2 linked regions of the Homo sapiens genome follow. The protein of the gene in region 2 purifies or fractionates together with the protein of the main gene of each other region. This does not show direct contact. Each region holds a gene or a part of one and is shown on either strand. Other genes may lie near its edges. The genes, in order: SNX8 and TMEM47.

Evidence for each region.
Region 1: the proteins of TMEM47 (region 2) and SNX8 purify together in Homo sapiens (affinity purification with mass spectrometry; one large-scale study listed by BioGRID and IntAct). This does not show direct contact.

Annotation. Positions count from the first base shown.
Region 1 is NC_000007.14:2,311,409-2,315,749, forward strand, and holds the start of SNX8 (sorting nexin-8), read right to left. Parts: upstream 3,034-4,341; 5' UTR 3,014-3,033; coding exon 2,920-3,013; intron 1,263-2,919; exon of another isoform or gene 1,066-1,262; coding exon of another isoform or gene 996-1,065; intron 1-995. UniProt on the Homo sapiens protein: May be involved in several stages of intracellular trafficking. May play a role in intracellular protein transport from early endosomes to the trans-Golgi network.
Region 2 is NC_000023.11:34,629,629-34,633,296, forward strand, and holds part of TMEM47 (transmembrane protein 47), read right to left. Parts: intron 864-3,668; coding exon 685-863; 3' UTR 1-684. UniProt on the Homo sapiens protein: Regulates cell junction organization in epithelial cells. May play a role in the transition from adherens junction to tight junction assembly.

The sequences.
Region 1 (4,341 bases), on a different chromosome or scaffold from region 2:
GACAGGATTTCGCTACGTTGTCCAGGCTGGTCTCTAGCGCCTGGGCTCGGGCGATCCTCCCTCCTCAGCCTCCCCAAGTGCTGTGATTTCAGACGTGAGCCACAGTGCTTGGTCTCAAGGCTGAGGTTTTCTCACTCCAGCCCACCCAATCAGGGTCCCCATCAACACACATTCCCTTGACATTGCCCACTTTGGGCAAATTACTTACCTCTGGATTTTAGTTTTCTCAATGTAAAAAGACCTGCGAGGCCGGGCGCGGTGGCTCACGCCTGTAATCCCAGCACTTTGGGAGGCCGAGGCGGCTAGATCACGAGGTCAGGAGATCGAGACCATCCTGGCTAACATGGTGAAACCCCGTCTCTACTAAAAATACAAAAAATTAGCCGGGCGTGGTGGCGGGCGCCTGTAGTCCCAGCTACTCGGGAGGCTGAGGCAGGAGAATGGCATGAACCCGGGAGGCAGAGCTTGCAGTGAGCCGAGATCACACCACTGCACTCCAGCCTGGGCGACAGAGCGAGACTCCGTCTCAAGAAAAAAAAAAAAAGACCTGCTATACCACTTCACCCACCTGCCAGGATGACGACCAAGTTTCAAACAGAAGGACAGTCTACGTCCCAAGAGTCTGTGAGCCCCACTTTCAGACTTGCCTGGTTACAGGAAAGGGCACTGTGAAGCACTGCCTTGTCCCAGCAACCCCCATCTGTGGATCCCATCAGCACTCCTGATGAAATCACCACTGCCCCCAGAAAAAGCCAACTACCTACAGGAATTCCAGGCCACACCAAAGGGAGGGCGGTCTCCCAGAGACACAGCTCCCTCAGGTGTACAGCGCTCAGACTATCTCTAAATTACACCATTATGGTAGCCTCTGGAGTCTACTTCTGTGAAGCCTGAAGGAAACACAGTCCCCTACACCTGCAGAGGACCCCTCCAGCAATGCCAAATTGCTTTACAAGCTGAGATAGCAGCAGCATTCCGATCCAATCACAGCCTACCTGTTCCCAAGTGACCCCTCGGAAAGGGTCCCGCCTGAGACTCACGCTGGCCTCCAACATGTGACTTCATGGACACAATGTTCTAATCAGCGAGAACTATCACGTGCCTCCCCTTACACTGATACAAGGGAAAGGAAAAAATAACTGAAGACCCATTCTGAAAGGCCCTTCTTTCTAGACACAGTCTTCACATCGAGGATGCCCACCAAATGCAACAATCCCTCCCCTGCTCCCCGCTGCCGTTTCTCGCCGACGAAGAAACTGTCTACCAACCCTCCAGAGCTCACTTCAGTCATCACCTCCTCAGCGACACCTTGCCAGACCTCCCCACAAGGGGATTCCCCAATCTTGTCCCCCCCCACCAAGAAGAAACCGTAACTCACACCAACACCCACCTACATCTCTTCTCTGGCAGCTAGGACCACAGGAAGGAACATCCAGAAATAAGGGGCACCCTCCTGTATTCCTTCTAATGTTTAGCCTCGTTTGTTTTGTTTTGTTTTGTTTTTTTTGAGGCGGAGTCTCGCTCTGTCGCCCAGGCTGGAGTGCAGTGGCGCTATCTCGGCTCACTACAAGCTCTGCCTCCCGGGTTCACGCCATTCTCCTGCCTCAGCCTCCCGAGTAGCTGGGACTACAGGCGCCCGCCACCGCGCCTGGCTAATTTTTTTTGTATTTTTAGTAGAGACAGGGTTTCACCGTGTTAGCCAGGATGGTCTTGATCTCCTGACCTCGTGATCCGCCCGCCTCGGCCTCCCAAAGTGCTGAGATTACAAGCGTGAGCCACCGTGCCCAGCCATGTTTAGCCTCATTAACCCAAATCCCTTAAAGAGAAATACAAGAGGCCAGGCGCGGTGGCTCACGCCTGTAATCCCAGCACTCTGGGAAGCTGAGGTGGTTGGATCACCTGAGGTCAGGAGTTCGAGACCAGCCTGGCCAACATGGTGAAACTCCGTCTCTACTAAAAATACAAAATTTAGCCGAGTGTCATGGTGGATGCCTGTAATCCCAGCTACTCAGGAGGCTGAGGCAGGAGAATCGCTTGAACCCGGGAGGCGGAGGTTGCAATGAGCCGAGATCGCACCATTGCACTCCAGCCTGAGTGACAGTGAGAATCTGTCTCAAAAAAAAAAAAAAAAGAAAAGAAAAGAAAAAGAAAAAAGAAAAAGACAGAAATACAGGCCAGGCACGATGGCTCATGCCCGTACTCCCAGCACTTTGGGAGGCCAAGGCAGGAGGACCGCTTGAGGCCAGAAGCTCCAGACCAGCCTGGACAACATAGCAAGATCCCATCTCTACAAAAATAAAAAAAATTACCGGGCGTAACTGCACGCGCCCGTAGTCCCAGCACTTTGGGAGGCTAAGGCGGAGGATCACTTGAAAGAGAGAGAAAAGCAGCTACACATCTATAGATTCGGTTCACAGATGAGAAAACAGAGGTCCCGAGAGGTGAAATTACTGGCCCAAGACCACACAACCGACAGGAGCTTGGGAGAGAGGATGTGGCTAGGAAAGGCGCCCAAGTCCGGGGAAGTGGCCCCCAGTGCCATCGCTCAGCGTGACCAGGCAGGGCAGAAGAGCAGGGCACCAGGAACGGGGCGAGGAGGAAACTGTCCCCGAGGACGCCTCTGAGAGCCCCGGGAAAGCGCCTCGGAACGCGGCCAGCTGTAACCTGGACAGGGCTCTCCCGGCGCAGGAGGGCAGGGGACCCCGAGGGACGGAGGCGCGAGAGAGCACGGGGACCCCCAAAGGACAGGCGCGCAGGAGGGCAGGGGGACCTCCGAGGGACTGGGGCGTGGGGCCGAACGCGGGGCGCGGGGGCAGGAAACGAGTCGGGGACCAAGCGCGGCGGCTGAGCCCCGTCCGCCGGGGGTGGTCGGGCCGCGCGCCCTGGGCAGGTGGGGGCTACCGCCGCCCCACGCCCTACCTGACGCCGGGGGATCCGCCTCCTCGTCAGCCTCCGCCTCAGCTGCCGCCCCGACTGCAGCCGCGGGCAGCGGGTCCATCGCGCGGCCAGTCATGTGAGCCCGCGCTCCCACGTGACTTCCTCCCGCGCCACCCGGCCGCGCAGCCCTGCCGCGCCGCGCCCTCGCCCCGCCCACACCCCGCCTGGTCACGCCCCCTCCCCCGCGCGCCACGCCCACAGTCCGCCCCTGCGGGCCCGCCGCGCTCCTCGCCCGGCCTCGCCACGCCTACAACCCGCCTAGCCACGCCCACATGCCCCTCCCCGTCCACGTGGACACGGAGCCTGCTGGTGGCGCAGGTTACCTCCCCTCAGGTTGGACCTCCGGACTCGCAGGTGCACTACCTCAGGCGCAAGCCTGCACCCACCGCACCCTCATTCACTCCCATCTCTCCTCGCCCAGTCACGCCCTTGTTCGCTCATTCACCGGTTACACTGGGGTTTTCTGACTCGCACTTCCTCATTCATCCACTCACCCACTCATTCGCTCACCCACGCACTGCATCCTGCATTCATTCATTCACCCACTCACTCACTGCATCCTACATTCATTCATCCACTCACACACTCACTCACCGCATCCTGCATTCATCCAGCCACTCACTCACTCACTGCATCCTGCAATCATTCACCCACTCACTCACTGCATCCTGCATTCATTCATTCACCCACTCACTCACTGCATCCTGCATTCATTCATTCACCCACTCACTCACTGCATCCTACATTCATTCATCCACTCACACACTCACCGCATCCTGCATTCATCCAGCCACTCACTCACTGCATCCTGCATTCATTCATCCAGCCACTCACTCACTGCATCCTGCATTCATTCATTCACCCACTCACTCACTGCATCCTGCATTCATTCATTCACCCACTCACGCACTGCATCCTGCATTCATTCACCCACTCACCCACTCACTCACTGCATCCTGCATTCATTCATTCACCCACTCACCCACTCACTCTCTGCATCCTGCATTCACTCATTCACTCACTTATTGCATCCTGCATTCATTCACCCACTCACCCACTCACTCACTGCATCCTGCATTCATTCATCCACCCACTCACTCATGCACTGCATCCTGCATTCATTCATCCATTCACTCACTCACTCACTTACTGCTTCTTCATACGTTCATTCACCCACTCACTCACTGCATCCTGCATTCATTCATCCACCCACTCACTCATGCACTGCATCCTGCATTCATTCATCCATTCACTCACTCACTCACTTACTGCTTCTTCGTACATTCATTCACCCACTCACGCACTGCATCCTGCATTCATTCATTCACCAACCCACTCACTGCATTCTGCATTCATTCAGTCACTCACTCACTGCATCCTGCATTCATTCATTCACCCACTCAC
Region 2 (3,668 bases):
ATTTTTCCCCAGTCTAGATAGGGCTGAGGCACCAATTTCTAACCACATAATGAGAAGCACATGTCTCCAAGTCTTGACTCTCTTCCCAGGGAGACGCTGATTGCCAAAGCATAACCTCCCATTAAAAAGAGTGTTCCTGAAGGTGGAATGTGTATCATTAACCAGTTACATTCACAACTCCCATTAGATGCTGAAGGGCAGTTCATTTTTCAAGGGCTCACTCAAGCAAATAACCAACAGCCAATGTAGTCATTGGGTAGGATAAGCAGGCGGTAAGGGCTCTAACAGTGGAATCCTTGTCAGCGCAAAGGAACTTCTAAATGTTGCTTATGCCAACTGCTCCCCTGCAGGCAATAGGAGATTGAGGCAAATCTCATTCCAACTAGTTTCTCACAATGGTTGCTGTCATATAGACCCTTCATTTGTCAAGAAAAACGATATGAACATATTGGAAGTTTGCAGCATTTGCCTATGTCTAATCAGCTCTCTTAATTTGTGCAGATTTCTAAAATGGATGTAAAAGCTGGTTATGATGTTGACAGCCAAAAGGCAAAAAAGATTAAATCAACTGAGCAAACTGCTTGATGCTCCACAAGTGTTTTAGAAAATAGTAAGTTAGAAAAGATGCAGACGTAATCCTTTTGTTGGATGGTGGTGGTTGTTTTTACTTTGAGACTATTGGTTCTAGTAGTAGTCTTCATAGTTCTTAGGGTTCAGGCAATAAAGGATGGCACCCCCAAACGAAAATATAGTTGCACCCCAGGCCAGGCCATAACCCCAGTTGAACTCATGGTAAATTTTCAAGCTCACAGTTTCAATGAACTTGATTGGGTAAAGGACCAGGCTGCAAACCTGTAAAACAACTGAAAGAAAAGCAAATCAAAATTAGAAAATGTTATTTGCAGCAAATAAAATAATATAAATATGTAACTATATATGTATGAGAGTAACTTTGTAATCAAATATACATAAAAGCCAAAAATTTTAAAGATGGCTTGTTCTAGATGGTATACTTTAAAATACTAATAATTTTTTTGTTTAAATACCTTTTCCCAATATATAAGAATTATCCTATTAATTAGTAAATCATTATTAGTATAGATAAAATAATTAGTGCAATATAATAATTTATATGAGCATACAAAGTAGTGATTTTCACCTTAAAAATATAATTATCATTATTATTATGGCAAGTAGTACTAGTTAAACTAAATTGTGCCACTAATAAACCGTATAAGTAGCTCCTCAAGAATAGTGACCCCAGCCAGGTGCGGTGGCTCACGCCTGTAAATCCAGCACTTTGGGAGGCCCAGGCAGGTGGATCATGAGGTCAGGAGTTCGAGACCAGTCTGACCAACATGGTGAAACCCCGTATCTACTAAAAATACAAAAATTAGCCCAGTGTGGTGGTGTGCACCTGTAATCCCAGCTACTCAGGAGGCTAAGGCTGGAAAATCGCTTGAACCAGGGAGGGGGAGGTTGCAGTGAGCTGAGATCATGCCACTGCACTCCAGCCTGGGCGACAGAGCCAGACTCTGTCTCAAAAAAAAAAAAAAAAAAAAAAAAAAAAAAAAGAATAGTGACCCCAATGCCAACTGAAACTCTTGTTATTTATTTATGCTATTAAGGAATTAGGAAATTCAAATTAATTTCTACTGATGCAACTGGTCATCCTGTGAGTGATAATGTGCTTTTGATGTTGTTGCTGCTTTGCAATACTAACTCAGCCCAATATGCCAGAAAGTCTCACCATGATGTCTTTGCTTACATTACTCTGATCCAAAGCTACTTTCATTATTTTCTTCTCATCCACTCTATGCCTCTTGTCTTTAAAAAGTGGCTTAAAAGTTATTAACAGATGATATTTTCATATCTGTTTTCCACCTACTTTCAAAAAAGAATTAAGTCGATAAAGGCAAGAGAGATAATGGTACAGGAAAACCTAGGCCAATTATGGCTACTGTAACAGAGGTCAAAACTTAGCTCTTAGTCCCTGGTTAGATCCTACTTCTGTCAGGGCCAAAGGGGAAATATGATTAGTCATACCGAATAAAATAAACCAAAATAATCAGGAAGGGAATGTTTATTTTGTTTTTGTTTTGTTTTGTGTTGTTTCTACTATCTAAAATAAAATGAAATTTATGTTGTGGATATGCACAAGACATAATGTCTTCCACTTAAAATTCTTAACTTCCTATTAGATCAATTATTATGTAATTTTATTTTAATTAGTTTAACTACAATTAGTTAACTACAGCTTCATTCTCTACCATAGGACAGCTTCCACCCTCAAGAAATAGACAATCTTTTTCCCTAAAAAATACAGAGTACAGTTATATTTAACAGGGGTTGGCAAACTACCAAATCTGGTCTGCTTTTTGTTTTTGAAAAAGTTTTACTGGAACACAGCCACACTCATTCATTTACGTATTTTCTATGCAACAATGGCAGAGTTGAGAAGCTGCAAAAGAAACCACACAGCTCACAAAGCCAAAAGTATTTACTTTCTTGCCCTTAACAAAAAAAGTTTGCTAACCTCTGATATATGAAATAATTTTAGGGGGTAAAATAATTTTTGTTTAATTCATCTGAAAAGAACAAAAATGTGAATAATTAAAGAAAAGGAGGGAACAAACTGACATAGTAAAACTATATACATAAATAGTTTTGATATCGCTTATATGTTTTAAAAAAGAACACTAGGATGGATAGAGTGTTTAATTAAAATGGAATTTTATGTTTTAAAATGTACTCTCATCTATTTTTAGCCCATGTAAAAGATTATTACCAGTATGATGAAGATTCCTAGAAAGTCTACATAACAGTCATCTTTCTCTCCCATAAAACTGATGAAATACAGCAAATTCATGAGGAAATGATTCCTCAAAATTTCTTTCTATAAGGCTCTGGCTAGGTGTCAAAGGACCGACCTAGAACTAGATATAAAAACACCCAACATTTCTGCCGTGTAGCACAACACTGCTGAGTCAGCACTTTGCCTACCATTACTACTGAGAGTGGATACACAAGTAAGTTTGTATAAGAGGATACCCTACTGATATCCAAAATAGAAATCAGACCTTCTCAGAAAAGGTTTTGGTTGTTGTTAGGACTCAGCTGACGGCATATTGTATGACCCACACTTCATCTATTTCCAGTTAGTAAGTGCTAAAATGTGCATTAATTTTAAAAAAAGCCCAGTTGGCTCTTTGCCTTTGTGAGGAAAAGGGAGCTTTCATGTTTTAAATGTCTTAAAACTAACAAGAAGTCAATTACTATCAACCATAACTACAGAGAAGAAAATTCCAAAGTTGCCAAGTACATTTGAAAAAAAAAAGGCACTTCTCCTTAGGTTTCTATACTCTGTTCACTCGTCAAATCTGTACTGATCCTACCAGGATATGACTGAAACAAGAATGTGGGTTAGGTATAGTAATTCATTTACTCATTCAATAAATGCATCCATTCAATAAATATCTGAATGTTTCTAAAGCGATACAGTTTAAGGCATTATGCTATCAAAAGAGACAAAGCTGCTACTCTCATGGGTAGTCAGTCCATTAGTAAACAAATATAGAATATAATGTCACATATTGCTAAGAGACAAGAAATGCAAGAAAGCAGACAGAACACAGGGATGAGGGCTGCTCTTTTAGATCAATCGTGAG